Homo sapiens: one gene and its partners. The protein of the gene in region 3 purifies or fractionates together with the protein of the main gene of each other region. This does not show direct contact. Each region holds a gene or a part of one and is shown on either strand. Other genes may lie near its edges.

Region 1 (3,655 bases), about 93 Mb from region 3:
GGGCTGGATGGCTGGAGGATAAAGAACTGCATGGGAGAGGGGGGCGCTCACACAGATGCCCCAGGGACATCCTGAAGCAGAGCTGCCTCACTGCCCTGAACACACATGAGAGCCCAGCCAGGAACAGAAGGAATGGACTGAGTTTAGGCTGAGCCCAGGCTAATTTTCTAACCATGGAACCTTGAGCTCAATAAATGCTTTTGCATTAAGCCTCTATATTAAGTGGGTTTGTCTTATATCCTAAGGTATTGGTATAAATATGGTCTCCTACACATAAAAATAAAGACACACAACCACCTCGCCAAAAAAAAAAAGGCAGAGTTAAACAAGCACTTCGCAAAGATAAAATTCTAAGAGAATAAATATAAGGAATTTATACTACATAAACATACAAGAAGAAAAATCCGCCATGAGTTGGAGACTAAAGAACATCTAATCAATGCTTCATTATAAAAAATAAAGAAAAGGACATGGCCCCAGCAGAGGGATATGGATATCACTGACTTAACGCTAACCCAAATCTGTAGTTTTGATCCCATCCTATTTCTCTCCACCTCTGTTGCCTCTCCTGTGCTAGAGTAGAAGAAACCCTTATGACGTACACAAAGAGTTCATGCATAGGAAATACAGGGAAATGGAGCTGGCCCAAGGCTGTCCTGAGAGCCTTACAAGAAGCACACGTGTGAAGGACACTGTGCAGGAGACCTGAGGCCCACAGCCCCGCTCCTCACCTGCACGTTCTGTCTGATGCGCTGCTCATTGTAGCTCTTGGCCAGGACCACAACCCCACGCTGTAGCTGGTAGCGCAGGGCAATCAGGGCTGGGGTTCGCTTGTGCTTTTTTGCCAAGGCACAAAGGACTGGGTCCTCCAAGAGCACCGGGGAGTTCGGGTCCACCCTGGAAGGAAAGGCAGAAAGGCTGAGGCCCTGAGGCTGGGGATACAGTTTGTTAGGCGGCTCCCTAAACAGACTAAGGCGTCCACTCTGCACCGGAGCTTCTCAAGCGAGGCCCCCGAACAGCAGCCTCAACATCACCTGGGATCTCGTCAGAAATGCAAATTCTTCCCTCACCCCAAGTCAGCTGTGAGTGAACTCCAGGAAACAGCATGATCTGATTAAATTTTTTTTATCAAACCGGTGTTTTAGGTAAACTTCCTGTATCTCTTATTACCATGGTTCTTCTCGGTGGGATCCCAGAGCACTATAGGCAACCAGAACAATGTCTTTTGACTTGCAGAAATCCAGCAGTTTTCTCTGGTTGAAGTAAGGATGACATTCCACCTGCAGACGAGCAAGATGGAAAAGCATCAGATAATCCAAAAGTTACACTAATATTAAAATCACCAAAGTAAAAGAAGCTGAATAATGTAGAGCATTAAATTTGAACTGAGAATATTATTGTCAAAAATGATCTTTTTCATAAAAATAAATTTTATGCCCCTCTCTCCTAAGAAAATAGAAATGCTATTTCTGAGCACAAGCAACTCCATGAACCCTATCCTGGTTTCTCAATAACTCCGACCACTAGAACGAGACACGGCCAATTTCAGAGCTGGGATGAGGTAAGATTCTTTGAGCCTTGGGCATCAAATCGTGCCAGAAATCAAGAATTTGGTCAAAGACTCATGAGGGCAGGTCTGAAAGACAAAAGAACTAGTTTCCTAATTAATACCAAAAATGCATACATGTATATGTATGTTTTCTAATTGATCTGACATATAATATATATATCATATATGCCATCTATGATATATATCTATATAGATGAACTAGAAAATATACATACACACATAAATACTGATAATTTTCACAGTCTTTCATTACTTTTCCTTTTTGTATGATGGATTTGTATGTTGATATCTCAAATGTCACCAGTGGGTTCCCTATGAAACAAGTGCTTTTGTCTTTTACACTTGCCCTCATGAGTCTTTGATCACATTCTTCTTTCATATATATTTTATATATATATATATATAATATATATATGCTGAGTAGATGTGAGCATTAAAAAATGAGTAAAATAAATTAAAAATCATAACACAAGAATCCGTGAGTCTGTAGTAATTAGTGCGACAATGAGAAAAAGAACAACAATCTTTGTCTACTCTGATGGTGGTCATTACAGTAATTACGTTCACAGTACATTGCTAATTGAAGGAAGAAGTTCACCTTTACCCTCACTTAGAGGAATAGTAGTTTATTATTTTTACTTGGTGAGAAATCATTTTTAATTAAATGTCAGGTAAGAATAGTTAAACAAGTGGTTAAAATTGTAAATGATTATGTAAAAACCCCAAGGAAATAACAAATAAGAAATAACAAAGAAGAAAACAGAAATGCAGTAGAAAAAAGTTCAAATCACTGATGTATACTCAATCATATGTGAAAATTTGTCATGGGAATATGACTTCTTCTGTTGAGAATTATCCCCCAGCAGATTACTAGTAATTGTTAAAGAGAAAACATGAGTTAAAAACAACAGATCTGACCACTGTTAGCTTAACCAAGTTTTTTTTTTTTTATTATACTTTAAGTTCGAGGGTACATGTGCACATTGTGCAGGTTAGTTACATATGTATACATGTGCCATGTTGGTACGCTGCACCTACTAACTCGTCATCTAGCATTAGGTATATCTCCCAGTGCTATCCCTCCCCCCTCCCCCCACCCCACAACAGTCCCCAGAGTGTGATATTCCCCTTCCTGTATCCATGTGATCTCATTGTTCAATTCCCACCTATGAGTGAGAATATGCGGTGTTTGGTTTTTTGTTCTTGCGATAGTTTACTGACAATGATGATTTCCAGTTTCATCCATGTCCCTACAAAGGATATGAACTCATCATTTTTTATGGCTGCATAGTATTCCATGGTGTATATGTGCCACATTTTCTTAATCCAGTCTATCATTGTTGGAGCTTAACCAAGTTTTTAAAACTACCTTCACCACTAGTGGGGCATTCTGTGATTGTATGCAGTCTAGTGTGGTGCAATTTGAAAAACACAGCATGATAAAAATATTTTCTTGCCCCAAAGGTTTAAGTCAATGTAATAAAACACTCTCATCTAACTTCTAATTTACAGAAACCTTCAACAACTGGGAAAAACAAGTTAACTGATATCAAAATACAACAATATAAAAACAATTGAATTCTGGTTAAAAAAAGAAGAGCTACAAAAGATATTTTGATTAAGCAAGGAAAAATTCAAATATGGACTGGATACCAAATGACATGAGGGCACTATAGATGATGTTCTTAGATACAGTAATGACACTGGAACTGGGAGAATATCTTCATTCCTGTGACATGCTTTGAGAGGTCTCTAGGGGTCAATTGTCATCTTTACAATTTACCTTGAAGAGGTTCTAGAAACATTATATGTATTTATGCAGATATACTCCATATAACATTGCAAAATGTTAGTAATTTTGAATATAAATGGTAACATGGGTCTCCAGTATTATTTTTATCAAATTTTTGGAAAGTGTGAAAATGGCCATATTAAAAAATTGGGGAACTACTAGTATTAAAACCACATTAATTTCTCAATGCTTTTATTAAATTATCACAGCACCGTATCATTATACCAAATTCACTAATTTTATACATATGTATTTCCACTGTAGATCTTCACTGATTGACTCTAAGTTTTAAA
Region 2 (3,655 bases), on a different chromosome or scaffold from region 3:
GTGGCATCAAGCAGTACTACACATAGGATGCATGGAATTGAAGCCTATGAACCATTATAAGGTCCCTTTCATTTGTTCCTCATTAACTGTGGATGACTAAAAATCCATGCTGCCAATAGCTCCAACTATGAGATGCAGATCGATGTCACAATTCAGACTCCATTATGTATGTCCTCACAATGCAGGAGGTGAAATGTGTATGTCATGTGTCCAAATTGTAAGATACTTGCTGTAAGTAGCAAAAAGATGGGAAGGAAAGTCTACAGACCAAATCATATCTGAATCTCCCCATTCTCCCTCTCCACAAATATTGGTTTAGGAATTCTCCGAAGTTTGAAGGTTATGAATGGTTATCACTCAAGGATTCAGAACTAAGGTAAAAATACTGTGAATGATAGGGGGAAAAAATCACTAATTGAGGTCTAAATCAATATCCTTCAGCTCTCTAAGGAAATGTATTTTTAATATAATAGCTTTATTGAGACATTCATACACCATAAAGTCCAAATTTTACTTTTTATTTTATTTATTTGGTTTTTTTTTTTTTTGAGATGGAGTTTCACCCTTGTCACCCAGGCTGGAGTGCAATGGCATGATCTCGGCTCACTGCAACCTCCACCTCCTGGGTTCAAGCAATTCTCCTGCCTCAGCCTCTTGAGTAGCTGGGATTACAGTCGCGCACCACTACGCCCAGCTAACTTTTGTACTTTCAGTAGAGACAGCGTTTCACCATGTTGGTCAAGCTGGTCTCGAACTCCTGACCTCAGGTGATCCACTCGCCTGAGCCTCCCAAAGTGCTGGGATTACAGGCATGAGCCACCTCACCCAGCCTAAAGTTCAACCTTCTAAAGTGTACAATGGAGTGTTTAGTATATTCAGTGGGCTGCACATTCATCACTATCACCCTTTCCTCACCCTAAAAGAAAACTCCATACCTGCTAGCACTCACTGATTCCCCTACCCACCCCATGCCCAGGCACATGGCAAGCACCAATCTACTGTCTATGGATGTGCTGATTCTGGACATTTCCCATAAGTGGGACCAAAAAAATGTGTGGTCTTTTTGTCTGATTTCCTTCAGGCAGTCTAATGAGTTTAAGGTTCACTCATGTTGTTACATGTATCATTACTTTATTCTTTTATTGCGAAGTAATATTTCCTTGTATAGTTAGAAGACATTTTGTTTATCCATTCACCAGTGGATGGACAGTTGAATTGTTTCCACTTTTTGGCTGTGGTGAATAATGTTGCCATGAACATTCATGTACAAGTTTTTGTGTCAACATATGTTGTCTTTTCTCTTGCACATATACCTAGGAGTGAAATTACTGAGTCAAATGGTAACTCAGGCTGGAGTGCAATGGCACGATCTCGGCTCAACGCAACCTCTGCCTCCCAGGTTCAAGTGATTCTCATGCCTCAGCCTCTCGAGTAACTGGAATTACAGGCATGCGTCACCACACCCAGCTTATTCAGACTGTTTTCCAAATTGGCTGTAACATTTTATGTTCCTATTAGCAAAGTATGAGCGTTTGAATTTCTCCACATTCTTGTCAACACTTGCTGTTGCCTTTTTTATTAAAGCCATTTTATTGGGTATGAAGTGGTAACTTACATTGTGGTTTTGATTTGCATTTCTCTAATGATGAATGATGTTGCACATCTTTTCATGTGCTTATTGGCCATTTGTATATTTTCTCTGGAGAAATGTCTATTCAAATGTTTTACCCATTTTTTTAATTGGGTTGTCTTTTTTTAATTGAGAGTAGGGCTTTTTAAATATTCTGGATATAAGTCCCTTATAAGACATATGATTTGTGGCCAGGCGCAGTGGCTCACACCTGTAATCCCAGCACTTTGGGAGACCAAAGTGAGTGGATCACTTGAGGTCAGGAGTTCAAGACCAGCCTGGCCAACACGGCAAAACCCCATCTCTACTAAAAATACAAAAATTAGCTGGGCGTGGGGGCGCACACCTGTAATCCCAGCTAATCTGGAGGCTGAGGCAGGAGAATCACTTGAACCTGGGAGGCAGAGCCTGCAGTGAGCTGAGATCATGCCAATGCATTCCAGCCTGGGTGACAGAGTGAGACTTTGTCTCAAAAAATATACATTATTTGCATATATTTTCTCCCATTCTATGAGTTGTCTTTTCTCTTTCTTGATGGTGTCCTTAAAAGCACAAAGGTTTTAATTTTGTGAAGTTCAATGTATCCATTTTTCTCTTCTGCCTTTTGTGATTTTGATGTCATAGCTAAAAAATGATTGCCTACCCCAAAGCGATGAAGATTTAGTCCTATATTTTCTTGTAAGAATTTTATAGTTTTAGCTCTTACATTTAGTCTATGATCCACTTTGAAGTTTTTATGACGTGAAGTATGGGTCCAGCTTCATTCTAACGCATGTGGATATCAAGTTGTACCGGCAACAATCTTTCCACAGTGAACAGTCATGGCTCCTATATTAGCCAGGGTCCTCAAGAGAAAATGAACCAATAAGAAATAGATGGATGGGCACAGTGGCTCACACCTGTAATCCCAGCACTTTGGGGGGCCCAGGCAGGCAGATCACTTGAGGTCAGGAGTTCGAGACCAGCCTGGCCAACATGGTGAAACCCCTGTCTCTATTAAAAATACAAAAAATTAGCTGGGTATGGTGAGGCACATCCGTAGTCCCAGCTGCTCAGGAGGCTGAGGCACAAGAATCACTTGAGCCTGGGAGGCAGAGGTTGCAGTGAGCCAAGATTGTGCCACTGCACTCCAGCCTGGGTGACAGAGTGAAACTGTCTCAAAAAAAAAAAAAAGGTAGATAGATAGATTTATTTTAAGGAATCTGCTACATAATTATGAGAGATGGAAAGTTCAAATCCTGCAGGGCAGGCTAGCAGGCTGGAAATTCAGGTTTGAGTTGATGTTGTAGTCTTGAGTTTGAAATCTGAAGGGCAAACCAGCAGGTGGAGATTCGGGCAAGGTTTCTGTGCTGTGGTCTTGTAGCAGAATTGTTTCTTCCCCCAGAAACCTCCATCTTTGCTATTAAGGCCTTCAACTGATTAGATGAAGCCCACCCACCTTGTGGAGGGTAATTTGCTTTAGTTAAAGTCAACTGATTATAAATGTTAAATTGTATCCACAGATACTTTCCCAGCAACATCTAGACTGCTGTTTGACCAAACAACGGGGCTCCAACAGCCTAGCCAAGTGAAACATAAAACTAACCATCACAGTATCCTTGTCAAAAATCAGTCTGACAACACATGTAAGGTTTATTTCTGGAGTCACTATTCAATTCCATTGATCTATATGTCTGTCCTTATGCCGGTAACACTTGTGTCTTAATTATTATAGCTTTTTTTTTTTTTTTTGAGACGGAGTCTAGCTCTGTCACCAGGCTAGAGTGCAGTGGTGGAATCTCAGCTCACTGCAATCTCCGCCTCCTGGGTTCAAGCAATTCCCTTGCCTCAGCCTCCCAAGTAGCTGGGACTACAGGCATGCACCCTCACGCCCGGCTAATTTTTTGTATTTTAGTACAGATGGGGTTTCACCATGTTGGCCAGGATGGTCTCGATCTTCTGACCTCATGATCTGCCCGCCTCAGCCTCCCAAAATGCTAGGATTATAGGTGTGAGCCACTGCACCCGGCCATTATTACAGCTTTA
Region 3 (3,655 bases):
CTACAGATTAAGCCAGCCCAAGGCCTCAGCCTACTGTGCTGGGCTGACCATGACAGTCTTCCCCCTTCTCCTGATCCTATGGATCAGGACTGCTGCAGAGACTCCCCTCTTTACTCCCGATCCAACAGACTCTGGAAAAGGAGGCTGTGGTCCAGGGGCTCAGCATGGGGGTGAAAAAGGAGAGGGAGGTGAAAAGGAGAGAGGAGGCCAGCCCTGATTTTTCCTTCCTGGGGACACTCTTGCCCCTCCCACTCTGTTTCATTTCCTCCCCTTCTGTGACAGACTCACACAGCTCTTGATGCAAATGTTTTTATTTGCCACTTAAACTACAGTTTCCCTGTGCTATCCTGATGGTGTGGGGGTGTGGAACAGGCTGCTGGAACCATGGTTTACAGTAGTAGCAGGTAGATGATTAGTAGCATGAGTGGTGAAATGCTGCATCTAAGTGCCTGTCACTTTGCTCCCAGGGGAATATCATGCAGCCCAGGAATAGTGTTAGACTGGGAAGGACTGTGGCAGGAACAGTCACTGTCTCTCCTCATTTTGGTGAGGAATGGGTCCCACATAATGGAGAGCTCAACAGAAGCATCCAGTCTTGTTCTGAATGGAGCAGGTCAGTGGCAGCAGCCTCTTGCTTTCATTTACCCCTTTGGGCTGCTTGCCTAAAGTCTCTCTTCCTTCACCTCCCCAGGCCTTTTGGCAAGAGGGAAGACACTGCCATTCCTGGCTCTTTCCCTGGATCAGTGTCTGATCTGGTGGAGGTAGCTTGTGGGGCCTGACTTCCTCCAGTTCCGGCGGATCCTGGCACTTTTCTTCCTAGAGTGCAGATACTGCTCACTGGAGGCTGTCTCTGTGGCACTCTGTGGGTTGGCCAGTGCAGAGTGGGGCTCCAGGATTCTGCAGAGAACAAGTGTATGATTAGCCAACATCAATAGGAAGAATGGAATGGGGACTTCAAGAGATTTCGTCATGGTGGACCATAAAACATATGATTTGGAGCAAAATGAGAGCGGGGCTCTGCTCTGGTCTTTCCCCCTCTGAGAACTGTCTGACTAGACAAAGTTTACAGATTTCTCTGCAGTAGAAAGGGTTGGACCAGATCAGGTTGTGCAAAACTCAACATTTCTTCATCCTCATCCTGTACTCATGGCAGATGTCATAAGTCATGCTATTAAACTGGTTTGATAAGCAGTGACTACTAATTAACTGGAGTTAAATACAAGCTATGACACTGACTTGCCATCTCAGGACCTGATGACCTCCAAAGGCCTGTTTAGGTCTGATGTTCTGATTGTGGGCCCCAGAGAAGGCAGCAGAGAGATGAAGCCCAGAGCATCACCCATAGTGATTGGTTGAGGCCAAGTGGTTCAGCTCCATCCCTTTGGGTTCACTCTTCCTGGGCTGGCAGTGGCCTAGGCAAAGAAGTGGCCCACCAGGGAGACTGGGGAGAGATCTCAAGGTAAAAGTTTTCAACAATTTTTAACCCATAATGCCTCGACAGTACATTCCTAGGCTATATTCTCTGTAATCCCCCAGCCAAGATTTTAATTAGGCTTAAAAAAAAAAAAAAAAGAGAATCTCACTCTGTCACTCAGGTCACTCAGGCTGGAGTGCAGTGACAGGATCATAGCTTACTGCAGCCTCAAACTCCTGGCCTCAAGTGATCCTCCTACCTCAGCCCCTGGAGTAGCTGGGACCGCAGGTGCATGCCACCATGCCTGGCTAATTTCTCTTTTTTTTGGCGGGGGGAGGGTGTGTGTGTGTGTGTGTGTGTGTGTGTGTGTGTGTGTGTGTGTGTGTGTGTGTGTGTGTGTGTGTGTGTGTGTGTGTGTGTGTGTGTGTGTGTGTGTGTGTGTGTGTGTGTGTGTGTGTTTTCAGAGACAGGATCTCGCCATGTTGCCCAGGCTGGTAAGCTGAGAATAACGGCAGAATGAGGTGATGCTACTAGGACTCAGGCATCTCTTTCCATGGGAGTTCACAGGGTTGTATATGACTCCAAAAGTAACAGCAATCTTTTTTTTTTTTTTTTTGAGACAGAGTCTCGCTCTGTCACCCAGGCTGGCTGGAGTGCGGTGGCGTCATCTCAGCTCACTGCAACCTCCACCTCCCAGATTCAAGTGACTCTCCTGCCTCACCCTGCTGAGTAGCTGGGATTACAGGTGTGTGCCACCACACCCAGCTAATTTTTGTAATTTTAGTAGAGACAGGGTTTCACCATGTTGGTCAGGCTGGTCTCAAACTCCTGACCTAGTGATCTGCCTGCCTCGGCCTCCCAAAGTGCTGGGATTACAGGGATGAGCCACTGCACCCACCAACAGCAATCTCTTAAGTGCCAACCAAGTGGTGACACTGTGTAGACCTTATAACCACCCCAATGGTGGGCAGGCACTTTACAGTGAGGCCAAGTAACTAGCTCCAGGCCACACAGCCATGCAGTGGTGGAACAGGCATTAGTGCTCTTCCCTCAGCCATCCGGTTCTAGGAACCTACCTGAGGCGGCTGCAGTGGTGTAGCGAGTGGCCCAGGGGTTTCTGCCTTGGGGGCCTCTTCCTGCGCAGCCTCTTGAGGGCCTCAGCCACACGGTGGTCCCCTGCACATTCCCAGATGATCTGTGCCCGTTCCTCGGCCAGCTGGTCCCCGCTGCGTTGAAACAGGGCTTGGATCTGCAGCAGCTCGGCGTCCTGGAAGATGTTGGCCGAGGCCTGCTTGCGGCCCCGGGCCTCAATCGGGGCCTGCCAAGGGGGTGGCTCACTGACCACCGAGGCTGGGGTACCCATTGTGGATGCTCTGAGGATGCAAAGCATGGAGACATCATCAACTCAGCTGGTCCTTCCCAGACCTGGGGGTCCTGGCTAATCCTAGGGCTTCTGATGTTTCCATTCTCCAAGAGCTAAACTGGAGGAAGTCTCCTGCCTTAAAATCACTTAAGCACTTATGTGTCAGACCCCCATATTATCTCATTTAGGATTCAAAGCAACCCATGAGGTAAGAATTATTGTTTATCCTCATTTTACCGATGAAGAAGTGCAACTCAGAGGGGTTAAATGACTTGCCAGCGTCACAAAGCCACGTGCACATGCAGAGCCAGCAGTTGAACCCAGGTCTGTCTAGCTGTAGATTCCATGCAGACGCCAGGATGCCCAGTAGCAGCTCAACTGTGTTGAGTACTTATACCAGGCACCTGTAACAGCTTGCTTCACATAGTATCAATGAGATGTAACAAGCACAACAGCCCTGTAAGGTAGGTATTTTAATCCTCCTCATTTCACAGATGAGGAATCTGAGGAAAGGTTAAGTCATCCATGGTTCTGCAACTAGGATGAGAACCCAGGCCTCTCTGATGCTAAGGCCCAGGTGCCGTAGCACAAAGGTAAGAGAGGAGTTGTGGAGCTGGGCTACCCGAGTTGGAATCCCACTTCTACCCCCTCCACCACTTACTGGCTGGGCATCCCCCCTGCCTCAGCTGCCTCCCGTGTCAAATTATCACCTAGTACTACTACCTACTTTGTAGGATTAATTTGAAGATTGAAGGAAGACAAAGTATATAGAATAGTGGTCAGTGTTTTCAATCTATAAAATTGAGACATCATCCCACCTCCTATCTTTAAGACCCTGGGGATGAACCAAATCTGTATAATTTAGCAAACATAGTATG

What was found.
Region 1: the proteins of AVPI1 (region 3) and AKR1C1 purify together in Homo sapiens (co-immunoprecipitation; one large-scale study listed by IntAct). This does not show direct contact.
Region 2: the proteins of AVPI1 (region 3) and IPO5 purify together in Homo sapiens (affinity purification with mass spectrometry; one large-scale study listed by BioGRID and IntAct). This does not show direct contact.

Annotation. Positions count from the first base shown.
Region 1 is NC_000010.11:4,969,826-4,973,480, reverse strand, and holds part of AKR1C1 (aldo-keto reductase family 1 member C1), read right to left. Parts: exon of another isoform or gene 3,083-3,655; intron 1,562-3,082; exon of another isoform or gene 1,452-1,561; intron 1,281-1,451; coding exon 1,171-1,280; intron 1,083-1,170; exon of another isoform or gene 898-1,082; coding exon 732-897; intron 1-731. UniProt on the Homo sapiens protein: Cytosolic aldo-keto reductase that catalyzes the NADH and NADPH-dependent reduction of ketosteroids to hydroxysteroids.
Region 2 is NC_000013.11:97,960,028-97,963,682, forward strand, and holds part of IPO5 (importin-5), read left to right. Parts: intron 1-319; exon of another isoform or gene 320-376; intron 377-3,132; exon of another isoform or gene 3,133-3,255; intron 3,256-3,655. UniProt on the Homo sapiens protein: Functions in nuclear protein import as nuclear transport receptor. Serves as receptor for nuclear localization signals (NLS) in cargo substrates.
Region 3 is NC_000010.11:97,677,129-97,680,783, forward strand, and holds the end of AVPI1 (arginine vasopressin-induced protein 1), read right to left. Parts: intron 2,788-3,655; 5' UTR 2,778-2,787; coding exon 2,491-2,777; intron 898-2,490; coding exon 741-897; 3' UTR 296-740; downstream 1-295. UniProt on the Homo sapiens protein: May be involved in MAP kinase activation, epithelial sodium channel (ENaC) down-regulation and cell cycling.